7 linked regions of the Homo sapiens genome follow. The protein of the gene in region 4 interacts with the protein of the main gene of each other region in a biochemical or structural test. Each region holds a gene or a part of one and is shown on either strand. Other genes may lie near its edges.

The links.
Region 1: the proteins of POLI (region 4) and GAS7 form a complex in vitro, tested with the Homo sapiens proteins (one large-scale study listed by BioGRID).
Region 2: the proteins of POLI (region 4) and FHL2 form a complex in vitro, tested with the Homo sapiens proteins (one large-scale study listed by BioGRID).
Region 3: the proteins of POLI (region 4) and MS4A6E form a complex in vitro, tested with the Homo sapiens proteins (one large-scale study listed by BioGRID).
Region 5: the proteins of POLI (region 4) and MRPL19 form a complex in vitro, tested with the Homo sapiens proteins (one large-scale study listed by BioGRID).
Region 6: the proteins of POLI (region 4) and SYNDIG1 form a complex in vitro, tested with the Homo sapiens proteins (one large-scale study listed by BioGRID).
Region 7: the proteins of POLI (region 4) and L3HYPDH form a complex in vitro, tested with the Homo sapiens proteins (one large-scale study listed by BioGRID).

The regions. Positions count from the first base shown.
Region 1 is NC_000017.11:9,912,857-9,915,606, forward strand, and holds part of GAS7 (growth arrest-specific protein 7), read right to left. Parts: 3' UTR 1-2,750. UniProt on the Homo sapiens protein: May play a role in promoting maturation and morphological differentiation of cerebellar neurons.
Region 2 is NC_000002.12:105,385,552-105,389,051, reverse strand, and holds part of FHL2 (four and a half LIM domains protein 2), read left to right. Parts: intron 1-2,511; 5' UTR 2,512-2,535; coding exon 2,536-2,691; intron 2,692-3,152; exon of another isoform or gene 3,153-3,500. UniProt on the Homo sapiens protein: May function as a molecular transmitter linking various signaling pathways to transcriptional regulation. Negatively regulates the transcriptional repressor E4F1 and may function in cell growth.
Region 3 is NC_000011.10:60,325,979-60,330,054, forward strand, and holds the start of MS4A6E (membrane-spanning 4-domains subfamily A member 6E), read left to right. Parts: upstream 1-1,276; 5' UTR 1,277-1,430; intron 1,431-4,076. UniProt on the Homo sapiens protein: May be involved in signal transduction as a component of a multimeric receptor complex.
Region 4 is NC_000018.10:54,286,517-54,290,016, reverse strand, and holds part of POLI (DNA polymerase iota isoform a (long)), read right to left. Parts: intron 2,737-3,500; coding exon 2,606-2,736; intron 1-2,605. UniProt on the Homo sapiens protein: Error-prone DNA polymerase specifically involved in DNA repair. Plays an important role in translesion synthesis, where the normal high-fidelity DNA polymerases cannot proceed and DNA synthesis stalls. Favors Hoogsteen base-pairing in the active site.
Region 5 is NC_000002.12:75,649,783-75,653,282, forward strand, and holds part of MRPL19 (large ribosomal subunit protein bL19m), read left to right. Parts: intron 1-526; exon of another isoform or gene 527-1,866; intron 1,867-2,359; coding exon 2,360-2,478; intron 2,479-2,740; coding exon 2,741-2,875; intron 2,876-3,500.
Region 6 is NC_000020.11:24,468,141-24,472,428, forward strand, and holds the start of SYNDIG1 (synapse differentiation-inducing gene protein 1), read left to right. Parts: upstream 1-1,488; 5' UTR 1,489-1,613; intron 1,614-1,732; exon of another isoform or gene 1,733-2,093; intron 2,094-4,288. UniProt on the Homo sapiens protein: May regulate AMPA receptor content at nascent synapses, and have a role in postsynaptic development and maturation.
Region 7 is NC_000014.9:59,477,909-59,481,408, reverse strand, and holds part of L3HYPDH (trans-3-hydroxy-L-proline dehydratase), read left to right. Parts: intron 1-2,057; coding exon 2,058-2,227; intron 2,228-3,500. UniProt on the Homo sapiens protein: Catalyzes the dehydration of trans-3-hydroxy-L-proline to Delta(1)-pyrroline-2-carboxylate (Pyr2C). May be required to degrade trans-3-hydroxy-L-proline from the diet and originating from the degradation of proteins such as collagen-IV that contain it.

The sequences.
Region 1 (2,750 bases), on a different chromosome or scaffold from region 4:
TGCAATGAAATACTTCCCGGCAAGGAGAAGGAACAAACCACACGCACACATCATGAATGACTCAAAAGCATTAAGCTGAGGGAAAGATGCCAGACTCAAAAGGCGACATCAGTGTGACTCCATTTATATGACATTCTAGAAAAGGCAAAATTATAGGATCAGATAATCAATCAGGGTTGCCAGGGAAAGAGGGCAGGAGAAGGGAATTTTTTGGAGGGTTAAAAACAGGTTGATCTTGGTGATGGTCACAAGACACTAAATTTGTCAAAATTCACAGAGCTGTATATTTCCAAAGGGTGAATTTTACTGGATGTCAATCATACCTCAATAAACCTGGGAAAAGGTGGTGGCGATGGGCCTTGTAGGGATGGCAAGGATTATGGGGATAAGACGATGTCCAGGCTACGTGGGGGGGCAGCTGATCTGTACCCCACTTAACATTAGAAGTGCTCTCTCCGACCTACACAAGGAATGCATCTTGAGCCTTCTGTTTAAACACTCCTTGTCAAGACTACCTGCAGCTGGAAGTAAAATCACCTAAACAAGCCAAGGTCGCTGATGTCCTTCGAATGTTATGGCTTGTATTTCCAAAAGGGACTTTGGCTCAGCCCAGATTTTTCTGCATCCATCCACTCATCTAGTAATTGATTGGTTTTCACAAAGGGTAGGGAAAGAAACCCCTGGTTGGTGAATTCGTTGGTACACTGTTTCGGTGTGCCCAGCTGTTTATCAATCCTGACTAGCAGAGCACTGCCTCCCACCGCAGAAATTCTCCTTGGCCAACAGGGTGCTGAGTGGAGGTAGAAAGGAGGCCCAGGGTGGTCCCACTGACAGAATCTCAGGGCCGCCATCCCCACGGTCCAAGGGGCCTATGTGTTGCCACTGACTGAAAGCACTAGAAAGAATAGAGGGTAACAAGTGGCTCTTCCTGGAGGTTGTCACAGCAACCAACTTGGAACACCATTTGGCTTAAGGAATTTTTTTTTTCTTTTTAAATCAGGCTTTCACAAACAGATCTTGTGCATCAGTCTCCTGGGTGGAGGCAGGTAGAAGGGGCTGACTTGTTCTCAGAAATGGAAGGGACATTCTCAAGAATAGCCCAGACCCGCCCACTTTGAATAAACCCAGCTAAGTCCTCACCTAAGCACCAAGACATAAAACAAAACAACAACCCGGATAGCGTGCTTGCCTCTCCAAAGTGCAGTCTTTTATTTTCTCAGTTGCATCCTAACCTTGATTTCAACCAGAAACGGGCCCCTGTTCATACGGATAGGGGTTCTGGACTGTTGACTCTAGCCCTGGTCTTAATTCACTGGCAATTTCATAGCCTCACTGGTTACCCTTGAGCTTCACTTTCCTATTTGCAAAGAGTTATTTATAATTTTTTTGAGATGGAGTCTTGCTCTGTCACCCAAGCTGGAGTGCAGTGGCCCGATCTTGGTTCACTGCAATCTCCGCCTCCCAGGTTCAAGCGATTCTACTGCCTCAGCCTGCCGAATAGTTGGGACTACAGGTGTGCACCACCACATCTGGCTAATTTTTTGTATTTTTAGCAGAGACGGGGTTTCACCATGTTAGCCAGGATGGTCTCGATCTCCTGACCTCGTGATCTGCCCACCTCGGCCTCCCAAAGAGCTGGGATTACAGGCGTGAGCCACCGTGCCCGACCCTTATTTGTAAAGAGTTATTTAAAGCAAACAGAGAAATTTCTGAAATTCGAATTGGATATGGGCCGTGAGGGTCTGGTGACCAGGTGATTAAAATCTTGTTGCTGTCTACCTTCCATCCAACAGGTAAATGCCTCACGACGGTGGTTTATATTATAATAAAGAATCCCAGAGGGTTAAGTGTGGAGAGGGTACAATGTTCTTATTATACTCTTCTCAGTCGACATGGAGAATAGAGGAGAGCAGAGGAATGCCCATCTTACATACAACTAGAGCGCCGCTTCTCAGCATGCCTGGCTTGTCTTGAGCATTCGCTGAATGAATGCAGATTAATCAGAACAACAGACTTACCTCTGAAAACTTAAATTCTGTAGAGTGCCTATGTATCAATGCCAAGGTTGCTGACCGGTAAGACCCCTGAAAACGAGCGATCACGGGCTTCCCTGACGACAGGGCCATTATAGTGTCCTCAGATTAGATCTTAGCACAATGGCTTTAACCTGCTTGATGAATGAATAACAGAGGGAAGAAAGAAAGGAAGTACGTGAAGGGGGTAAAGAGAAGGAGGTGAGGGGATGAGGGGGGAAAGAGTGACCTCCAAAAATGGACTGGCCCAAACTGGGCCAACCTGAGCTACCCTGGAAGACGCAAGAGGGCTCACTCTATCCCAGGGATGAACAGAGGACTCTGGAATCCTCAGATGTAATGGAAAAGTCAATGAGCCATATTGTACTCAAAATATCTTGTTAATAACAAGGCTATTGGCTTTGAATGTTTGGAAATCATCCACAGAGTAGTTTACTAAGCCACAAAGCAATTACCACTAGCACCCATTTTTCATAAAGAAACCAAGAAATAATATTCTAAAATTGGTAGCTGGTGTCATGACCCAACCCCAGATCTGGACAGAGTGGTTCTCCATCCCATGGACAGATCCTACCAGGAGGTCTTCACGTAGGTGAAGGCCTTTGTGCTGACCTTTTTGGTTGCAATGTTTCAAGAACAAGAGAAAAGTGACAACGTTTGGTTTACTTTAGTATATTAGGCATTTTTCTAATGTGAACTATACGAAAGCAATTCTCA
Region 2 (3,500 bases), on a different chromosome or scaffold from region 4:
TTTCCTTGCTTACAGTTGTCAGGATCGTGTATACGCAATAGTACAAAATTACTGTAATCACAAACCAGGCGGCAATATTTTATTTGCATCAGAAGGTCTGATTCTGGCATTTCACTCGCCTATCTTTTGAAGACTGCAAATTGAACCAAGTTTTCTTAGATCCTGTGAACTCTTGCTCAGAGTTACATAGCCAACCAGTGTACCTATTTTTTTTTTTTGAGACGGAGTCTCGCTCTGTTGCCCAGGCTGGGGTGCAGTGGTATCATCTCAGCTCACTGCAACCTCCACTTCCTGGGTTCAAATGATTCTCCTGCCTTAGCGTCCTGAGTAGCTGGGATTACAGGCATGTGCCAGTAAGCCCGGCTAATTTTTTTTTTTTTTTTGTATTTTTAGTAGAGACAGGGTTTCACCATGTTGGCCAGACTGGTCTCAAGCTCCCAACCTCAGGTGATCCACCTGTCTCGGCCTCCCAAAGTGCTGGGATTACAGGCGTGAGTGACTGCACCCAGCCCAGTGTACCTATTTAAGAACAGAGAAAACTTTCCACTTTTAGCAAATGGAATATTGCCATTTATTCCTGAAGAAAATTGTCTGTGTTTTTAATGCCCTATGGCCGTTTCTCCACACCAGCTATTCCTGTGGTAGGCTTTTTCTCTCCAGGATCATTCTAACATGATTTTATAGGAATGGTCATAAGAGGAGGGCCCATCACTTGCTGCTTATTCACACTGCGTATTCATCCTAGAAAAATGCAGTGTGCCGGGCATGGAGACCCCTTATTTTAAACTTTTATTTTAGGTTCGGGGTACATGTGCAGGTTTGTTATACAGGTAAACTCTTGTCACAGGGGTTTGTTGTACATATTATTTCATCACCCAGGTATTAAGCCTAGTACCCAAGTGTTATGTTTTCTGCTCCTCTCTCTCCTGCCATCCTCCCTCCCCGCTCAAGTAGACCCCAGCGTCTGTTGTTTACCTCTTTGTGTTCATGTGTTCCCTCATTTAGCCCTCACTTACAAGTGAGAACATGCAGTATTTGGCTTTCTGTTCCTGCATTAGTTTGCTAAGGATAATGGCCTCCAGCTCCATCCGTGTTCCTGCAAAAGACATGATCTCATTCTTTTTTGTGGCTGCATAGTATTTCATGATGTATATGTACCACATTTTCTTTATCCAATCTGTCATCGCTGGGCATTTAGGTTGATTCCATGTTGTCGGTATTGTGAAGAGTGCTGCAATGAACATTCATGTACATGTGTCTTTATGGTAGAATGATTTGTATTCCTCTGGGTGTATTCCCAGTAATGGGATTGCTGGGTCAAATGGTAGTTCTGTTTTTAGCTCTTGGAGGAATCACCATACTGCTTTCCACAAGGGTTGAACTAATTTACACTCCCACCCACAGTGTATAAATGTTCCCTTTTCTCTGCAACCTCGCCAGTGTCCTGTTCCTGTTGGAAGGGCTTGAGGTGTTGCCCAGAGAGCCACTGACTGCAGCCACTGCATTTCTGACTATTTGATATCATTGTTTTGGGAAGTGAGTCTTTCCATTTATCCTGCTCTCAGGGTACCTGGGCAGCTGCAGGATGATCTTACCCGCAGGGAGCAATGATTCATCCTCAGGGACTTTGGCAGTTTTTCTTGTGCAAGGGCAGCTTGCACTCCCAGGTCAAGGGTATTAGTGCCCTCATTGCATCTAATCTCAGGTTTCCCAGGTCAGATCTCCCTCCCTTTTGCCACTGTGATTTCTTCCTATTCAAATCATGAATCATAAAGAGGAGCTCACGGAAAATCTTTTTATAGAAATGGACGTATTATTTCTATGCCTGCCTTTCTATTTTGGAGGCAGGGAGAAGGGGAAGATGCAAGGCCGGGTCACAGCCGGACAGGATGGGGGCTCTGGTGTCAGCCCTTACCTGCATTTAAAACTGAGATAGCTTTTTCTGACACAGTAAAAAATAATTTGTGCTTTTCAAGAAGTGGAATGTGACCAGGCGTGATGGCTCACGCCTGTAATCTCAGCAGTTTGGGAGGCTGAGGTGGGCAGATCACCCGAGGTCAGGAGTTTGAGACCAGCCTAGCCAACATGGTAAAACCCTGTCTCTACTAAAAATATAAAAGTTAGCTGGGTGTGGTGGCAGGTGCCTGTAATCTCAGCTACTTGGGAGGCTGAGGCAGGAGAATCACTTGAACCTGGGAGGCGGAGGTTGCAGTGAGCCGAGATCGCACCACTGCACTCCAGCCTGGGCAAAAGAACAAGACTCTGTCTCCAAAAAAAAAAAAAAAAAAAAAAAAAGTGGAATGCATTCAAACACAAAACCGCCCTAGCTAATGAAAAAAGGTGTTATCATTAAAAATTATGACCGATTAAAGGGTGAGTTTTAATTATTCATCCAGAGGAATTAGCCACCTTTCGGCTAAAGATGACAGACAGTGGGACAGTTAATGCCTTTGCGTGCACCCCTTTCAGAGAGTGCTTAATGGGACTTGGATTTTCTTTTCTTTTTGATAGGTTGCTGAAAAGCCAGGAGTCAAAATGACTGAGCGCTTTGACTGCCACCATTGCAACGAATCTCTCTTTGGCAAGAAGTACATCCTGCGGGAGGAGAGCCCCTACTGCGTGGTGTGCTTTGAGACCCTGTTCGCCAACACCTGCGAGGAGTGTGGGAAGCCCATCGGCTGTGACTGCAAGGTACCTGCTGCGGGCCTCTGCGGGTCCCCGGCGCTCCCCTAGGAAACACGGGTTTCTCTGTGGTTTGTGCTGAAGCCCTGATCCACCACTGAAGTCTGTCTCTTGAGCCCCCTCTGAGGGGCGTGGACCCTGCGTGTAGCCTTTCGGAAGCTTCTTCCCTCTAGCGAATGTGATCTCTGCCCACAAGCACTGGGTGAGGGCCTTGCCAGGACTTTTGTGCTTAGTATCTCTAAGTACATTTTCTGTATTCTAGCAATTAGTGCCCTTATCTAACTACCCAGCTGCCTACCAATACTGGAACTTTCTTAAGGGTGGTGCTCTCTTCCTCTTGTCTGTTTGCCCCGTGGTGAGTAACGTGGAGCAGGTGCTGTGCTCAGTCAATATTTGATGAATGAATGTGTACATGAGAGAACCAGAGTTGGTTCCTGGATAAATGGGCACATAAAAGCACAAAGTCCTTGGAAGATTGTGAGCTCTTTTCCTTTAATGAGAGAAGGACAGGATTTGTATTGTTTCCTTTCAATGGGGAAATGTGTTCATGGCTCTCCTGGTATGTCACAGCGTGGTTCAGCAAAGACCACTGGTCACTTGTACCAACTGCCCCGTGGTTGAGGGTGGTGAACCCTGACCTGCGCTTCTCAGCAGACTCTTGTTCCAACCTGGATTGCTGAAGGACACCCTGGGGGACCCATCCATAGCTCTGAACTCTCTGATACCTTCACCCGCAAACGGCTTCTAAAACACTCCAGTGAAACCCCTCATGTGGCTGTCATCCTGAGTGCCGTGAAACTGGCTACAAAATGGGATTC
Region 3 (4,076 bases), on a different chromosome or scaffold from region 4:
ACATTAGAAGAAATATTGTTAAAATGTGTATGCTGAAGTTTCCCTGACACCTACACAGGTGGGAACTGCACTGCACGAGTGCCAGCAGAGGCAAATTTAACTCACTTGCTGCTCCACCCTTTGCTGGAGGGGCAGCACAGGTGAGCAGGTGCAGGACTCAGGGCAAGCACTTTTGGGTGCCGGCAAGAGCAAACTCCATACCAGTCCCATGGCAGCATCTAGGGAGAGGGTGACCGTGATCTCTGAAGACCCAGAAGAAGTGTTACACTGCCCATTTTAGCTTTGCCATCCAAGGATAGCTTAAGTGTTAATAGCTCAGTGGAGGGTCAGTGTGACAGTGTTTTGCACCTACACTCATGGCACCCAAGTTCTTGTTCAGCATCCAGGAGGAATGAGGTTGCATGAACGAACTGAAGATGGTAAATGCAAGAGATTTTAGTGCTGGTGAAAGTGGCTTTCAGTGGGAAGGGAATATGTAAAGGGGATGGATGGAGCGGGAAGGTAATCTTCCCCTGGAATCTGGCCGAGGACTAGATGCTACACCATCAAGCTGTCCCTCTCATGTCAAGCTGCTTCTGTCTGCCATACAACCATAGTCTTCAACATCCAGCTGCATCTCCTCTCTCTGCTGGCTGAGCCTGGGGTGTTTATGAGCATAGGATGGAGGGTGGGGCAGGATATGGGTGGTTTTGGAAAAGGCGACATTCAAGCAGGAAAACAGGGATGTATGTTCTCACTTTGGGCTGAGTTATCAGGCTTTTTGGCTTGACGGTGGGGCCCTTGCTGGGGACCTGCCTTCTTCTGCACAGAATTTCCCTGCCTCCTATACTTATCAATGCTACTAAAAGCAGTATAAGGATTCAACACAATCCATCTTCACAGAAATATAAAATGAAATGCTAAAATCCACGTGTAATCACAGAAGACCCTGAATAGCCAAAGTAATTCTGAGAAACAAGAACAAAGTTGGAAGCATTATGCTTCTTTATTTAAAAGTATATTATAAAGTTATAGTAATCAAAACAGTATAATACTGGCATAAAAGCAGACATATAAACCAGTGGGACAAAAATATACAGCCCAGAAATAAACCCAAATATATATGGTTTCTATGGTTTGAAGCCTTGAATGTTTGTGTCCTTTCCAAAATGCATGTTGAAACTTAATCTCAAATGCAATAGTTTGGGCCTTTAAGAGGAAATTAGGTCATGATGACTCCTCCCTCATGGATGTAATTAAGGTCCTTATAAAAGAGGCTTCACAAGACATTTGGACTATTTCACCCTTCCATTCATTCCACCATGTGAGGACACAGTTTGTCCTATCTGGAAGATGCAGCAACAAGATACCATCTTGGAAGCAAGCAACGTGACCCTAAGTAGATGCTGAACCTGTGGCACCTTGATCGTGGACTTCTCAGTTCCAAAACTGTGAGAAATAATTTTCTATTTTTTATAATTACCCAGTTTGTGGTATTCTGTTATAGCAGCACAAATGGACTAAGAAAGAAACTGGTACCAATAAGTGGAGTACTGCTGTATCGAACACCTAAAAATGTGGAAGTGGCATTGGAACTGGGTAATGGGTAGAGGCTAGTCTCTAACAGACGATTCTGGTAAGGACTAAGAAGAAGAGAGCTGTAGACAGAACCTCAGTCTTAGAGATTATTTTAGTGGTTGTAATTACAATATCAATTAAAATGTGGGCAGTGAGTGCCATTCTGATGTGGTGTCAGATGAAAATGAGAAATAATTAAAAACTGGAGGGGGCCAGGCGCAGTGGTTCAATGCTTGTAATCCCATTCACTTTGGGAGGCCGAGGTGGGCAGATTACTGGAGGTCAGGAGTTCAAGACCAGTTTGGCTGATATGGTGAAACCTCGTCTCTACCAAAAATACAAAAATTAGCCTGTCATGGTGGTGCACACCTATAATCCCAGCTACTCGGGAGGCTGAGGCTGTAGAATTGCTTGAACCTGGGAGGCGGAAGTTGCCATGAGCCAAGATCGCACCACTACACTCCAGCCTGGGTGACAAAGTGAGACTCCATCTCAAAAAAAAAAAAAAAAAAAAAAAAGTGGATCAAAGGCCATCCTTGTTATCAAGTGGCAAAGAATATGGCTGAATTGTGTCTATGTCCCAGGGTTTTGTGGAAGGCAGAACTTAAAGGCAATGAACTAGGATGTTTGGTGAAATAAATATCTAAGTGAAGTGTTCAGGGAACTGACTGCTTATAATAAAATACGGGAAGAGAGAAATGAATTAAAAGATAAAATGTATAATCAAAAAGTAAGTGAAATTTAAAGATTTAGAAAATTATCAGCCTGGCCATGTGAAGATAAAAGGCTGTTCAAGAAAGAAAATTAAAGGTATGGCCAAGCTACTGTTTAAATAAGAAATATATATGTGTAGGTAGAAGCCAGATACTATTCACTAGAACAGTGGAGGGGTGATCCCAGTGATATTTGGAAGATCTTTGGGGCTCCCATTCCCATTACAGGTGCCAAGTGCTAAGTTTTTATTGACAGATGAATGGATAAACTGTGAGATACACACACACACACACACACACACACACACACTCATATAATTCAGACTTAAAAAAGGAGATCTTGCCATTTGCCACAACATGGAAGATACTGGAGAAACTTATGCTAAGTAAACTTACCCAGACACAGAGACATATTGCACAATCTCATTTATATGTGGAATCTAAAATAACAACAAAACAACTAACAATATAGAATTCAGAGAGATAGAGAGTGAAACTGTGGTTACCAGGGGTAGAAGAAGAGAGAGAGAGAGAAAACTGGTAGGGGAGAGCAGCAGGTCAAAAGATACAAAGTGAAAGATAAGTAGGATGAGCAAATCTAGAGTTCTAATGTACAGTACAAAGACGATAGTTAATAACAAGGTATTGTATTTGGCATTTTTGCTAAATGACTAGATTTTAGCTGCTCTTGCCACACATAGAAATACAAACGAGTGACTATTTGAAATAATAGATATGTTAATTTTTAAATTTTTATTATTATACTTTAAGTTCTGGGATACATGTGCAGAACGTGCAGGTTTGTTACACAGGTATACACGTGCCATGGTGGTTTGCTGCACCCATCAACCCATCGTCTACATTAGGTATTTCTCCTAATGCTATCCCTCCCCTTGCCCCCCACCCCCCGACAGGCCTTGGTGTGTGATGTTCCCCTCCCTGTGCCCATATATTCTCGTTGTTCAATTCCCACTTATGAGTGAGAATATGCAGTGTTTGGTTTTCTGTTCCTGTGTTAGTTTGCTGAGAATGATGGTTTCCAGCTTTATCCATGTCCCTGAAAAGGACATGAACTCATTCTTTTTTATGGCTGCATAGTATTCCATAGTATATATGTGCCACATTTTCTTTATCCAGTCTATCATTGATGGGCATTTGGGTTGGTTGAAGTCTTTGCTATTGTGAATAGTGCTGCGATAAACATACGTGTGTATGTGTCTATATAGCAGAATGATTTATAATCCTTTCAGTATATACCCAGTAATGGGATTGCTGGGTCAAATGGTATTTCAAGTTCTAGGTCCTTGAGGAATCACCACACTGTCTTCCACAATGGTTGAATTAATTTACACTCCCACCAACAGTGTAAAACAATTCCTATTTCTCCACATCCTCTCCAGCACCTGTTGTTTCCTGACTTTTTAATGATCACTATTCTAATTGGCATGAGATGGTATCTATTGTGGTTTTGATTTGCATTTCTCTAATTACCAGTGATGATGAGCTTTTTTTCCTATGTTTGTTAGCCATATAAATTTCTTCTTATGAGAATTGTCTGTTCATATCCTTCACCCACTTTTTTTTTTTTTTTTTTTGAGATAGAATATCGTTCAGTCACCCAGGCTGGACTGCTGTGGCACAATCTCAGCTCACTGCTACCTCTGCCTGCTGGGTTCAAGTGATTCTCCTGCCTCAGCCTCCTGAGTAGCTGAGACTACAGGTGCATACCAGCACACCTGACTAATTTGTTGTATTTTTAGTAGAGATGGGGTTTCACCGTGTTAGCCAGGCTGGTTTTGATCTCCT
Region 4 (3,500 bases):
CTTTTGCTGTGCAGAAGCTCTTTAGTTTAATTAGGTCCCATCTGTCAATTTTGGCTTTTGTTGCCATTGCTTTTGGTGTTTTAGTCATGAGGTCTTTGCCCATGCTTATGTACTAAATGCTATTGCCTAGGTTTTCTTCTAGGGTTTTTATGATTTCAGTTCTAACATTTAAGTCTTTAATCCATCTTGAGTTAACTTTTGTATAAGGTGTAAGGAAGGGATCCAGTTTCAACTTTCTACATATGGCTAGCCAGTTTTCCTAGCACCATTTATTATATAGGGAATCCTTTCCCCATTGCTTGTTTCTGTCAGGTCTGTCAAAGATCAGATGGTTGTAGATGTGTGGTGTTATTTCTGAGGCCTCTGTTCTGTTCCATTGTTCTGTATCTCTGTTTTTCTGCCAGTACCATGCTGTTTTGGTTACTGTAGCCTTGTAGTATAGTTTGAAGTCAGGTAGCATGATGCCTCCAGCTTTGTTCTTTTTATTTAGGATTGTCTTGGCTATAGGGGCTCATTTTTGGTTCCATATGCAATTTAAAGTATTTTTTTCCAATTCTGTGAAGAAAGTTAGTGGTAGCTTGATGGGGATGGCATTGAACCTATAAATTACTTTGGGCAGTATGGGAAAATGGCCTAAATTTTTTAAGCCCTCTCCAACCCATACACTTATCCACTGGCAGAGGTAGACGGCTTCCAGACTCTAGTGTTTGAGCAAAACCTTTGCCAATCACTGGCTAACCATGAAACTATACAGACATGGGCAACTTCCCAGAAGCCAGTATTAAAATAAAAATTTGAATGGAAAAAAAAAAAAAAAACACTTGAGCAGAGAAATCAGTGGCTACACAGCACAGGGGAGGTAAATTCTGCAGATTACGTTCAGACAAGTTACCTAAAAAGAAGTACAGGAAACAAAAAAGAAAAAACCCTACAAGAAAAAATTGTAAATCCAGAGTTGCTACAATACATTATCTATGAGGTTCAGTTTTCAATAAAATAGTTCAAAACATGCAAAGAAACAGGAAAGTGTGATACATATTTGGGAGGAAAAGCAGTTAACATAAATTGACTTTGAGGTGAACTTAGCAAAGACTTCAAATTCATTATTATAGATATGTCCAAAGAATTAAAGACAACCATGTTTAAAGAATTAAAGTAAAATATAATGACTACAAAAAAAGGAGAATCTTGATAAAGAAACAAAACCAAACATATAAACAAAAGACAAACAGAAATTCTAGAGTTAAAAAGTACAGTAACCAAAACCAACAAATCACTACAGGGGCAACAGCGGTTATGAGATGACAGATGAATCAGAGAACTTACAGGCAGCTCAATACAAATTATCCACTTTGTAAGAAAAAACGGAAAAAAAAAAAGACTACAGAAAAATAAACAGAGCAGCAGAGACCACCACAGGGTGGAATCAGTGTTAAGGATAAACATATAGACCAATGAAACAAGAAAGTCAGGAAATAAACTCTTATATTTATGGTCAATTAATTTTTGACAAAGATGTCATGGTAATTCAGTGGGTGGAGAATAGTCTTCAACAAATGATGCAGGAACAACTGGATACCCACATGCAAAGCAAAGAATGAAGACCCTTACCGTATACCACACATAAAAAAATTAACTCAAAATGGACCTAAACATAAAGCTTAAAAACTATAAAACTTCTAACAGAAAACAGAAAAAAATATCTGTGACCTTTGAGTTAGGCAAAGAATTTTTACATATAACACCAAAAACACTATCCATAAAAGAAAAACCACACTACTATATACCGCTAGAACAACTATAATCAAAGAGACTGATAATACAAATATTGGCGAAAATATGAAAAACTGGAACCTTCAAATATTGTTGATGAAAATGTAAATTAATACACAAACTTTGGAAAAAAGTTGGCAGCTTCTTAAACAGTTCATGTTACCATATGATCCAGCAATTCCACTCTTTGAAATCTACCCAAGATAAATGAAAACATATGCATATGCCCATCCAATGACTTGCATTTAAATGTTCTTCAAAATGGAAACAATCTAAATGCCCATAAAGAAGTTATCTCATGCTATACAGTTATCACAGTTTTGTTCTCTTTGAACTTGGAAAACATTCTTAAATGACTCTTTACTTAATTATCTATTTAAAAACAAGGCCAGGTGCAGTAGCTCATGCCCATAATCCCAGCACTTTCGGAGGCTGAGGCAGAAGGATTGCTTGAGCTCAGGAGTTTGAGACCCTGTCTATCCTAAATATCAAAAAAGTTAGCCAGGTCTGGTAGCATGCACCTACTGTCCCAGCTACTCGGGAGGCTGGGGCAGAAGAATTGTTTGAGCCTGGGAGACAAAGGCTGCAGTGAGCTATCACAGCACCACTGCACTTCAGCCTTGGTGCAGAGCAAGACCCTGTCTCAAAAAATAAATAAATAAATAAACAAACAACAAAGTTTTCCAGTGAAAATTCCTGATAGAATAAAAGCATTTAATTGCTTGCTAATTCCCTGTGAAGACCCTCCATTTTTGGAGCATATTTCTCATTCAAAGTTGGCTTATTTAAGAGTTCAACCTGCTAATGAAACTGTTGGAAAACTAGTCCATACCTGTCCCTAATTTCTGAATTACATGTGAAGGAATAGGGCACTGACGACTCTCACGACCATAGTGCTTCTCAGAGGAATACCGACGGATTATTAATCTCACTGTATGAGGCTTCCTTCCATCTTGGCATACTCTAAAAATAAAGAGAAAGTGGAAATAAGGAATTAGAAAAGTATTACCTTTTTAAATTATGTAACATCTCATTTATCTAAAGGTGCCAGATTTTGTTAAATATGACAATTATACATATAGCAGATAACAAAATAGTAAGCAATAAAGGTCCCTGAGTATCCAAATAATCATCACAAAGTCTATGCACTAAAACTCTGAATGTTTAGATGTCAAGCTCTCAGGCCTCACTCAGAATTGAGTGCTGTCAGAAATAGAAGAGATATAAGATACAATCATAACAAACTGTTTTATAATACAGATCCAAAACAAAACTAAAAGCAACCAATTTTTTTTTTTTTGAGATGGAGTCTCACTCTGTTGCCCAGGCTGGAATGTGGTGGCACAATCTCAGCTCACTGCAACCTTCACCTCCCAGGTTCAAGCAATTCTCCTGCCTCAGCCTCCTGAGTAGCTGGGACTACAGGCATGTGTGACCACACCTGGCTAATTTTTGTATTTTTAGTAGAGAGGTGGTTTTGCCATGTTGGCCAGGCTGGTCTCGAACTCCTGACCTCAGGTGATCCCCCCACCTCAGCCTCCCAAAATGCTGGGATTACAGACGTAAGCCAACACACCTAACCAAAAGGCAACAAATTAAAATCAGCAGGAAATTTAAGAAACTGAATCATTCACTGACAAAAGCAAATAAGTGAAAAATAACAAAAGAACTTTTTTCAAACTTTTTTCTTACGAGATTACCAAAAAAAAGATTTTTTTTTACAAAAT
Region 5 (3,500 bases), on a different chromosome or scaffold from region 4:
CCATGCCTGGCTATTTTAAAAATTTTTTTGTTGTAGAATGAGGTCTCACTATGTTGCCTAGGCTGGTCTGGAACTCCTGGGCTCAAACGATCTACCCTCCTCGGCCTCCCAAGTGTTGGGATAACAGACGTAAGCTACCACACCTGGCTGACATTTTCAAATGGTTCAGAAAAAAATGATATGTGTATATAAAGCAAATATAGCAAAATTTTAGCAGTTGGTAAAAGTGGATGAAAGATCTACAGGTGTTCATTGTATTACTATTTTTTGGTAGGCTTTAAAATTTTCAAAGTAGAAAATTGAGGAAGAGAAAGAAATTCATGGGAATAATCACCAAATTTAGGATAGTAATGAACTATCCTAAATACACAGGGGCTTCCACAATATTGATAATTTATTTCTTGAGGTGGGTGGTAAAGACATGAATATTCATTGTACTGTCATTTATACTTTTTATGTAGATTAAATATTTCATAATGAGCTTAAAATCAGTTAAAGAAGAAAAAAAGAAGATTATTATTTTTTAAGCAAAAGGATTTCACCTTTGTAAGACTTACACAATTTTCACATAGCTTCATTTCTACAATCACAACAATCCTGAGGTAAACAGGCAGGGTCTAATCATTCTCTTTTTACAGAGGGAGAACCAGCAACTTAGGGAAATCAAAACGGGGACACTAACAGGATTTCTGTGGAAATTTAAGTAAATGAGAATTTATGGTGAATTTTTTATTCTAAAACGAATACCTCACCTTGGCCAAAATGGGACATTACCCAAGGTCCCCTACTAGGCCAGAGGAGAAAAGGAAGGACTTACCTCCTACAGAGGCACAAACAAGGCAGACTAGGACCCAGCAGTTGCCTAAGGCCCAAGGGTCTCCAGTTAGGAGAATGTGAAATGCAGGGATGTGAGACTGGCCTAAGGTATAGGAAGAGCGGTAAACAGAAGAGAAGAGACGAGGAGGGGGAAAAGCAAGAATTATTAAACGTGGTCAAGGAGCGAAGAGCACTATGAAGCCTCAGGATTTCTTCAAGGGATACTGCTGTGCCAGGTCTAGAGGGCAGAAAGATACAACCACGAGACCCCAGGACTACCAAGCTGATGGGATTACCTAGCCTCTGGACAGCACCTTCTGATTGGAAGCAAGGAAGCACACTAGAAAGGCTGCAGTACAGAAGGCTCAGAGACAGTCAGTAGGGAGTAGAAGGGCCTCTGCTGTTCTGGGAAGATTCTTACAGCATAAACAAGCTCTTACTGTGCCTAAGAGAAAGGGAGAGGGAGGCAAGGAATGTATCATGGCCTTAAGAACTTTCTAGAGGTTCATATTTATTGGCATTTGACCTAGAGTCCTTGCCATGGGCAAGGTGCATCCCTGGGCCATGGATAGGAAAATCAGCATCCTACTTTCTCTTCAGTTCGATCTGTTAATCCACCAACCCAAATCCCTCCCACCCGCACCTGTCATCCAAGGAAGAGAAAATGGTTCAGGGACACGATGTGCTGCAGCTGTGTCTCTGGATTTGTAGGTCTCTCCTCGACTTTTCAGCTCCTACACGATTCCTTGGGGCAGGTGACCAGTGAATGACACCGCATATGTACCTGGCTTAAAGTTACTGACTCGCTGCCACTTGGAGACCTAGCTGTCCTCTGGACTCATCATTGCAATGATTCCATCAAAGGAAGAGCTAGTGCAGTCATATACCATCTCAGTTACTCTTCGTCTGTAGATAGGTGTTACAGTTGTCAGAACCTTCATATTCAAACTGGTCTATAGTCTTGACCAGCAAACACAGCCAACAAGCCTGCAGATGCCCCAGGTCCTTCAGCACCATCTCCAGGGCCATCTTCTCTGATCAGGAAGATCATTTTAAAAGTCAATTTATAATTAGTGATTTATATGTTGATGTCTTTTCTGACATAATTTATTATAGCATGTATAGCTCAGTGTGAGGCCTGTAGTAATGGTTATAGGCTTTGGAGACTGACCAACATACCTACATTTAAATCTTGATTTGACAGATTTATAGCTAATGTAGCAATGGGTTAGTTATTTACCTTTTTCAAGCTTCAGTTTCTTGCTCTGTAAAAAGGAGATGACACCAAACCCACATGGTTGCTAGAAGGATTAATTTATGCTATAGATGTTTCATAAAGCTTTTAACAAAATACCAGGTGAGTACTCAGGAATTGTTAGCTATTTTCATGAGCATTAACAATTTTAGAAATAAGATTGACTTTTATTTAGACAATGAAGAATAAAATACATCAATATCATATTTAATTTCTTTGAAAAGCAACAATTTTTCTTCTAGCAGCCTTTTGAGTTTACTTTTAATTATTTATTTGTATTTTTTACAGGTTCTTGAGTCCTGAATTCATTCCTCGAAGGGGAAGAACAGATCCTCTGAAATTTCAAATAGAAAGAAAAGATATGTTAGAAAGGAGAAAAGTACTCCACATTCCAGAGTTCTATGTTGGTCAGTAAGAGCTGTATGTTTTTATTATTAGTAATTAGGATGGCTAGTTTGTGATTGGATGGTTAGTTTTCTTAAAAAGCAAAAGAAGATTGTTTTTTACATATCTGGGTTATGCTCATATGAAGTATTTATTCCTACATTAAAACATTTAGGAAGTTAAGTTATCTAGAAATGCTATTTGTTTGTTTCTGCATCTTATATAAAGTTTACTTCTCAGCTGGGTGTGCTGAAAAAAAAGTTCACTTCTCTTTTGAATTTGTAGGAAGTATTCTTCGTGTTACTACAGCTGACCCATATGCCAGTGGAAAAATCAGCCAGTTTCTGGGGATTTGCATTCAGAGATCAGGAAGAGGACTTGGAGCTACTTTCATCCTTAGGAATGTTATCGAAGGACAAGGTAAGTTTTATTTCATCATTTTCATTGTCTAGAAAATGTTATCTCAGGATTCCTTTTTGTTTCTGCATCCTGGGATAAGAAATCTGAAATTTGAAAGTAAAAGGAGACTCTGAGGGAAGATGTGGAGCCTGTGGCTTTAGAATGGATTGAGATTTGAAGTTAATGATTAAATATGGTTGATGGACTTCTTTCTCTTGAAGGCTTCTTATGTTATTGGAACAACAGTCATTAGAAGTAGACTTTGCAAACCATGGCAACATCAAAGAGGGGAATAAATTACTATAAAGCAGTATGGGGATATTTGTTTTAGGAGCAAATAACCCATGAGTAAAACTTTAAGACAAACCTTTAATGTCTTCATGAATTACTTGCTCCTAAAATGAATACCCACATTTTACTTTATGTTATGACACAAAACAAAATTATCACTGTCTTATATGACTTGGGAGGAATTTTAAAAAGGCAAAATTGTGTTTATATACTATGCCTAATAGAGGAACAAGGAGTAAAACTCTAGCAAGATTATTAATTAAAATGGCAGGAACAATTACGTTTATCAAGTTGTGTGCTTCATGAAGTTCCAACAACAAAGTATTCTTATTTTCAAAGAAATTGAAAATGTGAA
Region 6 (4,288 bases), on a different chromosome or scaffold from region 4:
ACTCTCCACCTCAAATGGGTCTAATAGTATCTGCTCAACCTAATGGCTTAGATGGGAAACTGCTTTATTCAGGAAAGGACTCCGGAAAGGTAAGCTGCTTTATTAAAGTGTGGTGGCATGTTCTTCCAAGTTGAGAAGTTCTGCTAGATGGGAGAAATGAACAGTGCCCGTTTCTGAGTGTTCCAGACCACAGCCTTGCAGCTCTGGGGACCTAAAGGAAGAAACATCAGGTGTGTCTCGCGGGGCTGCAGACATGAAGACGGGGATGGAATTCAGGTGATAGTACTGGTTCCACTCATCCGCGCCTCCTTCAAATGCCTCCTTCTGGCACTCTGCATTTCAGCATTCTCTTTGGGCTGCGGAGGCTCCCTAGAAGCCACGTCCCCTGAAAGGAATATAGGAAGGACCTCTTGTTCCTGGCACCACCTTTAACTCCTGCCCCTGCCCACCAGGACACCTGGGCAAGACGCAGCGCAATGGTGGGTTACCAGGCAGGAGGGAGGGCTCTAGGAAGGTTGGGAGCCATGGAACTCTGGAGCTTAACCTTCTCTGACCACCAGTGTACCAGCCTGCGGGTGGCAGGACTGGGGCCTCTGCCTAGTGTTGAAACGGGGGCGCACAGATGCTTTTCTAAATAACTTTTGACCCCCTTTCTGGTAAATCTTTTTTTCAGAGTTGATTCTCTATGAAATCTACACTGCAAACACCACCTCCTCCGCTCCTAGAACGCAGACTGTCTTACCACCGCCCTAGTTTCCTTCCAATTCCAACTGGGGCGGGCCCGCCATGGGCCAACAACAGGCTGGCTCAGGGCTGAGGGGGTCTCTGGAGTCTGAACTCCGCGCCCGCTTGCTCCTCCAGGGCTTAGCTGGTCAGGACTTGAACATTCGCCGGATCCATAAATTGGGTCATTTTTAACCTCAAAACCGAACCGCAGCCTGGGGAGGCCTTTAGGACCGAGGGGAGCCATCCCTTCCTCTAGTCGGGCAGCAAATTCCTGTCCTCCTAGTCCCCCGCAGCTATCCCCCGCCCCCAGCCTCTGTGGCCCTCACATTGTCAGACACTGGCCGCGGGCCACCATCTGGACGCGATCCCCCGCTAGGGCCTCCCTGGTCTGGGCCAAAGTTGGTGGCCACCTTCGCGCGGGCTGCGCCCTCCTTCTCTTCCCTGCCCTCCTCCCCCGGGGCCCGCGCCCGCTGCCTCCAGCACGCGCGTCGGCAGGCTCGGCAAGCGAAGAGGAGCGGCTCGCCCCAGGGCGCCCCTCGCCCAGCCTGCCGGCCAGGCGAGCGCGACGAGAGTCTCCCCGCACCCCTTCCTCTCCCGGGGGCCGAGAGGGTTGGGCTCCGCCCCGGCGCCGCAGCTCCCGACTCCCCGCCGCTCGGGCTGCCGCCGCTGCCCCGCGCCCGGCGCTCGGGGCAGCCGGGGGCGCAGGCGGAGAGCGCAGGGCGGGGAGAGGCGTGGGGAGCAGAGCGGCGCTGAGGGGAGGGCAGAGGAGGAGAGAGCCTGGCAGCGGAGGAGCAGAGGCGGGCGCCGCACCGCCCCGCACGCTCGCTCGCTCGGGAGAGTCGCGGGCGGCCGCTTGGGCGCACTTGCCGGGTCACCTTGTCCCGGAGGTAAGTCCAGACCTCCCGGCCGCGGGGGCGGGCGGAGGGGCCCGCAGTGGGCGGGGTCGCGGCAGGGGCCGCGAGCTGGCGGCGGGAGCTGGAGGCTGCCCTGCGCTGGCGGGTGTCCTAGTCCTGGCTCCGCCTCGGAGCGCGCAGACCCGGCGGCGGCGTGGCGCCCGCGGTAAGTCCGGGTGGTCGCCGCGACGAGACTTGGGAGACACGGGGTCGCAGGGCGGGAGGGGGAGCTGAGCCGGCAGAGAAAATGCCCAGGAAGGGGTCGATGCTGGCCTGGGCTGCACCTTGGTGCCTTGCCACCCCGGGAGACGCGAAGGGGCTGCTGTGCGAATTCGATGGGAGCTGGTGAGACCGAGAACTGAGAGCGTAGCGGAGCCAGGCTGCCCAGCAGGGCCATGAGGGCGCGCGGCGGGCCAAGGCTCTGCGGGTTCGGGCTGCCCCTCGGAGTGACCCGAAGGAGACCAGCCAGGGCTGGTGAGCCGGGCGGCCACGGAGCTGGGGACCTAGGTCTGTTTGGGAGTAGGAAGGGAAACAGACTAATTCTCCGAGCGGAGCGGCAGGCAAGGTGCAAGCGCGCTTGGGATGGGGAATCCCGACGGGCGACCGTGGCGGAAGCAGAGACTCCTGGAGCCTCTTTCCTCTAGCCAGGACAAGACCTGCCTTCAAAAGCTGTCTGGCCCCTGGCAGCCGCGACAGCCTGCAGCCCTGGGAGCCACAGCCCTGGCGCCGAGATGGGAGCGAGCACATACGCTTTTTTGGTTCCAATTTGAATCTCGCTTTTTCCTAGTCGTGATTTCTGCCTCTTCATGTGCACTCTCTGGGCAGTGAGGAGGAAGGAATGGCTCACTGGATGAGTTGGGCACTTTTCTTAGGGAAGGGGCTTTGTCCCTATGCGCTTTTTGCAAGACCCTACTAGAGTGGCTCTGGCAGCCGAGCTTTGAGGAGGCGGCCAGAGGGGCCGCTTGGCGTTTCTGAAAGACGAGAGGAAGGGGTCTTCTGGTAGTCCTGTTTTCCTTTGGGGGTTTCGTTGCACGCAGAGGCTTGGGCGCTTGGCACCCAGACTTCAGGTGCGCACAGTCCTCCTGCGACGTCAGATGCGCTGGCGCCGCGGCGCTCCTGGCTCGGACCGATGCCTGCGCCTTCCCTGGCCACGTCCTGGTGTTTAGTGCAGCAGACACCGGCCGAAGGCTTGGCTGATTGGGGGTGTCGAGGGGAGGGGGGCTGGGCGTTACACAGTGGCTCCGTTTTCTGGTTGGAATCAGTTGGTGAGGCGTGCGCGCGCGAGTCCGTGTATCTGTCCGTCTCCCTCCTACAGCCCAGCGTGTTTGGTCTGAGTCCAAAGAAGGAGGTGGTGTGTGTGCTGCGTAGACCTGCGCCTGTGGGGTGAGCAGCCTCATAGCCCCCAGAGCCGGCCAACTTCTCCGTGCTAGGCTGCGACCTCAAGGGCTGCCGCGTCGGGGATCGGAAGTGGTCTTCAAAGAGGGGTCTAGGTCGCGAAATCCTGGCAGCAGCCGAAGTGAAAAGGAGCTGCTAGGAGGCGGGCGGGGGGCAGTCTGATGTCCGTTCTGGCGCGGACAGGAAGAAACTGAAGTCGAATTTTTAGTTGAATTGCGTGCTCTGTGTTTGGCGGTGGTGTGGCCCGTTCTTTTGGAGGTCCACACCACAGGTATGAGGCCTGTGGGCCCTGAGGAAGCGCGATCCCCTTAATTCCTCCCTCCCCTCTCTCTCCACCGCCCGCCCCTTTGCAAGGAGCAAGCCTGACAGTAGCTGATCGGCGCCCTCTCTCACCCTGTCCCCATTTCCTGCCTGAAAACGGAATCCTCATAATCAAGAGGGCCTTGTTAAAAAAAAAAAAAAAAAGGAAAGAAAAGATGGAGAAACCTATTTTTAAACTTTTTTATTATGGAAAATTTCAGTTGTACACAGTGACAGACAGAGAATAGCACTGAAGCTTTGTGTACCCCCCACCCAGTCACCACCTGCAGTTACCTTTGGTAGAGTTTTGGAGGCCACAGAGTTTTGGAAGCCTTGTTTGATGAAGTATTTCAAAACTCATTCCAAAATGCTAAGTATTGGATAGTAGGTTAATTAGCTCCATTCAGTCATGACACATTGTATACGCATATCACAGCATCATTTTGTACCCCATAAACATACACAATTATAATTTGTTAATATCTGATAAAATAAACCAATTCAGTAAAAATACAAAATCACTTTGATGTAAACTTCAAAAAAATAAAAAAACCATTCCAAACTCACTTCACCTCTAAACACATCCCTCTGTATCTCCAGCTGATGACATTTCATTTTATGTTCACCTATCAGAAATGTCAGTTTTTAATAACCCCATTAGAGTATAGGTGATATTAAAATAAAAATGAAGGCCCCCTCCATTCCCATTTTAGGGTAGAAAAGGAAAACCTGCCAACTTTACTTGAGGCGTACAGGGGTGAGATATTGAAGAAGGAAAGACAAGTCCGGATCCTGGGAAGACAGATATGTTAGCAATAGGAACAGACTCATTCTAATTCATGAAGGGCGTGAACACGATTCTGGTTGAGCCATGATAGGCAAGAGAATTTTTTTTGATAAAAACTTTAAAACTCAGTTCAAAAATTATAAGCAATTAATTTCTTCCACATTTAGCATTGAGATAAATTAAAAGT
Region 7 (3,500 bases), on a different chromosome or scaffold from region 4:
AGGGAATAATGTAAAGATAGTAAGTAAAACAGTACCTACCTCTCAGGGCTGTAGTAATTAAGGCACTAATGTAATGAATTAAGGGGCTAGTGTATGTAAAGACCTGCCACATAGGAAGTACTCATGGGTGAAATAAATATCTTAATTTTTAATGTTAGTAATTTAGTGATTAAAAAATGAAATAGTCACAGATAATTGGTGGACAAGAGTAACTTTAAAGGAAATTTGGTCCATTTTAAAGAAAAGGAAACTGAAACTCAGTGAGGTGTAGCACCCTACCCAACTGCCCACCCTAAGAAAACCAGACCCAAGATTCTAGAAAGGTTGGGCCAGGGAAATGATTGTAGGCTCAGGGATGACTTCTCCTGAACCAGCTTCCCAATTTCATCCTGGTCCCGGGATTGGTGGCCAATGCCCCATTTAGTTGTTACAATCAAGGGAAGAGGGCAGGCCGACTGAACCCTGGGACCGTCACCTGTGTCTCCTGGTAAGTGCTGATCTTCACCCTCACTTTAGCTTTCCACCTTCCAGCAGTCCCTCATTTCTATCAACTTGCCCATTCTCTTTTCATTAAACTTGCTTTTCATGTTGCGCCAGCATCAAGATAAAGACATTTTTTATTCAGTTTTGTTGTTACAATCCACAGCATGTTTTACTCTTTTGATTATAAACTTGCTCTGTTTTAACACATCATGGGTTAAAAGGGCTTCTGTGGACTAGTGTGGACTAATAGCATACTGATAGCCTTCTGTGGACTGATAGCATACTGATATCTTTGTATGACCTTGTATGAAAACTCAGGAACACAAGATATATTTTCTTTCCCAAAACTTAATTTCTGAAGCTGAAACTCTACTCTGTCCTTTTGGTTCACTTAGCCTCATCACTCCATGTGTTGTCCCCTTTCCTGATATGTGTGAGCAAAGGTTTCTTAAAAGTGCTGTGGCCTTGGAGAGGATGGCACTTCAGTCCTCAGCTTACACAGTTAACCAGCAAAGTGGAGCAGGAGCATTGGCTGCCCCACCCTACCTGGTCCTTGCCCTCTGCACTGCCTCCCCATCCTCTGTTTCTTCACTCCTGCTCCTGTGGTGCCCTGGGGGAAGTTAACACACGTCCTCTCTGCACTAAGGACCTTCAGCCTCCACTCTTCTCAAGGGAGAAAAAATTTATCTCTAGGAGAAATATTTCTCCCTTCAGGACACTCCTTTGCCAACAGATGTCTTTCCCCTGAGAGCTTAGGCTTCCCTAAAATAAAAACATGAAAGACAAGCTTTCTCCCCTGCCATAGGCTTCCCTAAAAGGCAGTGATCACCAAGCTAGCTTAAATTAGGGAAGAGGAAAATTTGAGAAGGGGCGAAATAAACATCACCCAGCCCCCTTTCTTTGGAAATACAGATTCAAGATTTCAAACTACTGACCTTCAGGTGAAACTTTGGGGATGTTGAGACTTAAAATGCTCAAATAAAAACCCTGGTGCAAAATGATGCTGTAGCAGTCAATGATTCTACAATGGCATTTTTCTGTGTTTGCCTGCAGGATACCTTAAGGAGATGAAAACATGTAGATAAGTGTATATAATTTATATAGAAAAATCTTTTATTAAAATTTATGTTTTGACATTACGGCTGAAGAAAATTGATTTGTAAATAGGATCCAAGACCCTCACTATTTTAAACCATCTCTCATAGTACAAGTGGGGAATAGACATTTTCCTTCTTAGTGTTCACAGGGATGCCCTTGGGTTTCCCTCTCTCGGCCTCAGGGGTGTTTCCTAGAAAAGATCCTCAGGGAAGTTAATGAATATGTCTGTATGAGTTAGGGAAAGCATGGCTTTAGTTTATAACTTCTGCAATCATCAAGTTAAAAATAGAATGATGCATCTAGCTATTATTCACTCGATGCTTATTCATTTAAAAAACGGATTTTTACTTCATTATTTTTATGATAGGAAAAGAACATCCCTCTTGAAAAATAAACATATTAAAAATCCTTTGAATTTTATTGCTAAAATACTTATTAACAAACACATCTTCTTTCCAAACACATCTTTTTTTTAGATCTCATGGTGGATGTTCCTGGACATGGAAAGGTGATGGTGGACATTGCATATGGCGGTGCATTTTATGCATTTGTTACTGCTGAAAAGTTAGGACTAGACATTTGTTCTGCAAAGACCAGGGACCTTGTGGATGCAGCGAGTGCAGTGACAGAGGCAGTGAAAGCTCAGGTCAGTAATACTCTGCCTTCATAACCAATTCCCTTCTCTGTGGCATGGAGGAAATATACATTATTATGTCTATAAAGAAAATTAAATGATGTTTAAATTATTAATAGTACTAAGAATAGGGTACTTATTAAAATCTTAGGCTCTAGAGCAAGCTTGTCCCACCCGTGGCCTGTGAGCCACATGCAGCCCAGGATGGCTTTGAATGTGGCCCAACACAAATTTTGTAAACTTTCTTAAAACATTATGAGTTTTTTTGCAATTTTTTTTTAGCTCATCAGCTCTCGTTAGTGTTAGTGTATCTTATGTGTGGCCCAAGACAATTCTTCTCCCAGTGTGGCCCAGAGAAGCCAAAAGATTGGACATTCCTGCTCTAGAGCAAAACTATCTATGAGTTCTAGCTTTACCACTGGTAACGTATATAACCTTGGGCAAGTTACGTAACCTCCATATGCCTCAGTTTTCCTGTCTGCAAAATGGAAATTAAAAAATACCTGCTTTGTAGGGTTGTGAGAATGAAATAAGTCAATACATGTAAAGGACTTAGAGTAGTGTCTGGCCAATAGTAAATGTTCAGTAAATGATAATATTATTTTTTTTGAGACAGGGTCTTGCTCTGTCACCCAGGCTGTAGTGCAGTGGTGTGATCATAGCTTACTGTAACTTCAAATTCCCAGGCTCAAAATGATGCTTCTGCCTCAGCCTCCAGAGTAACTGGGACCACAGGCATGCCCCATCACACCCAGCTAAATCTGTGTTTGTGTGAGTGTGTGTGTGTGTTTATATAGAGACAGGATGTCACTATGTTGCCCAGGATGGCCTCAAACTCCTGGCCTCAAGTGATTCTCCCAGCTCGGCCTCCCAAAGTGTTGGGATTACAGGTGTGAGCCACCACACCTAGCAGTTACTAAATTTAATAATACATACATACTAATATAGTTTATAGTTCCTTAAATGTGTAGAAATATATTTATAGAATTCTGCAAATTTTAAATGCATGTGTGTGGTCATTCTGTTAAACTTGAAAATAATAAATGTAAAATATAGTGTACAGAATAGATTTAAGCCTTTTTCTTATTTCATAGAGAACATTAATTCCTATTATTTTTTTCCTACATTGCTAAGAAGTTACTCAAATAACTACTTAAATAACTCTAGTTTTTACTTGGGAAAGCTAATTTGATAAAATCAGTTTAGATAATAATTCTAGGATATTCTTTCACTTCTAGCACGAGTGAAGCACATTTTACCTTGAAATTGGGACCTATAAATAAAA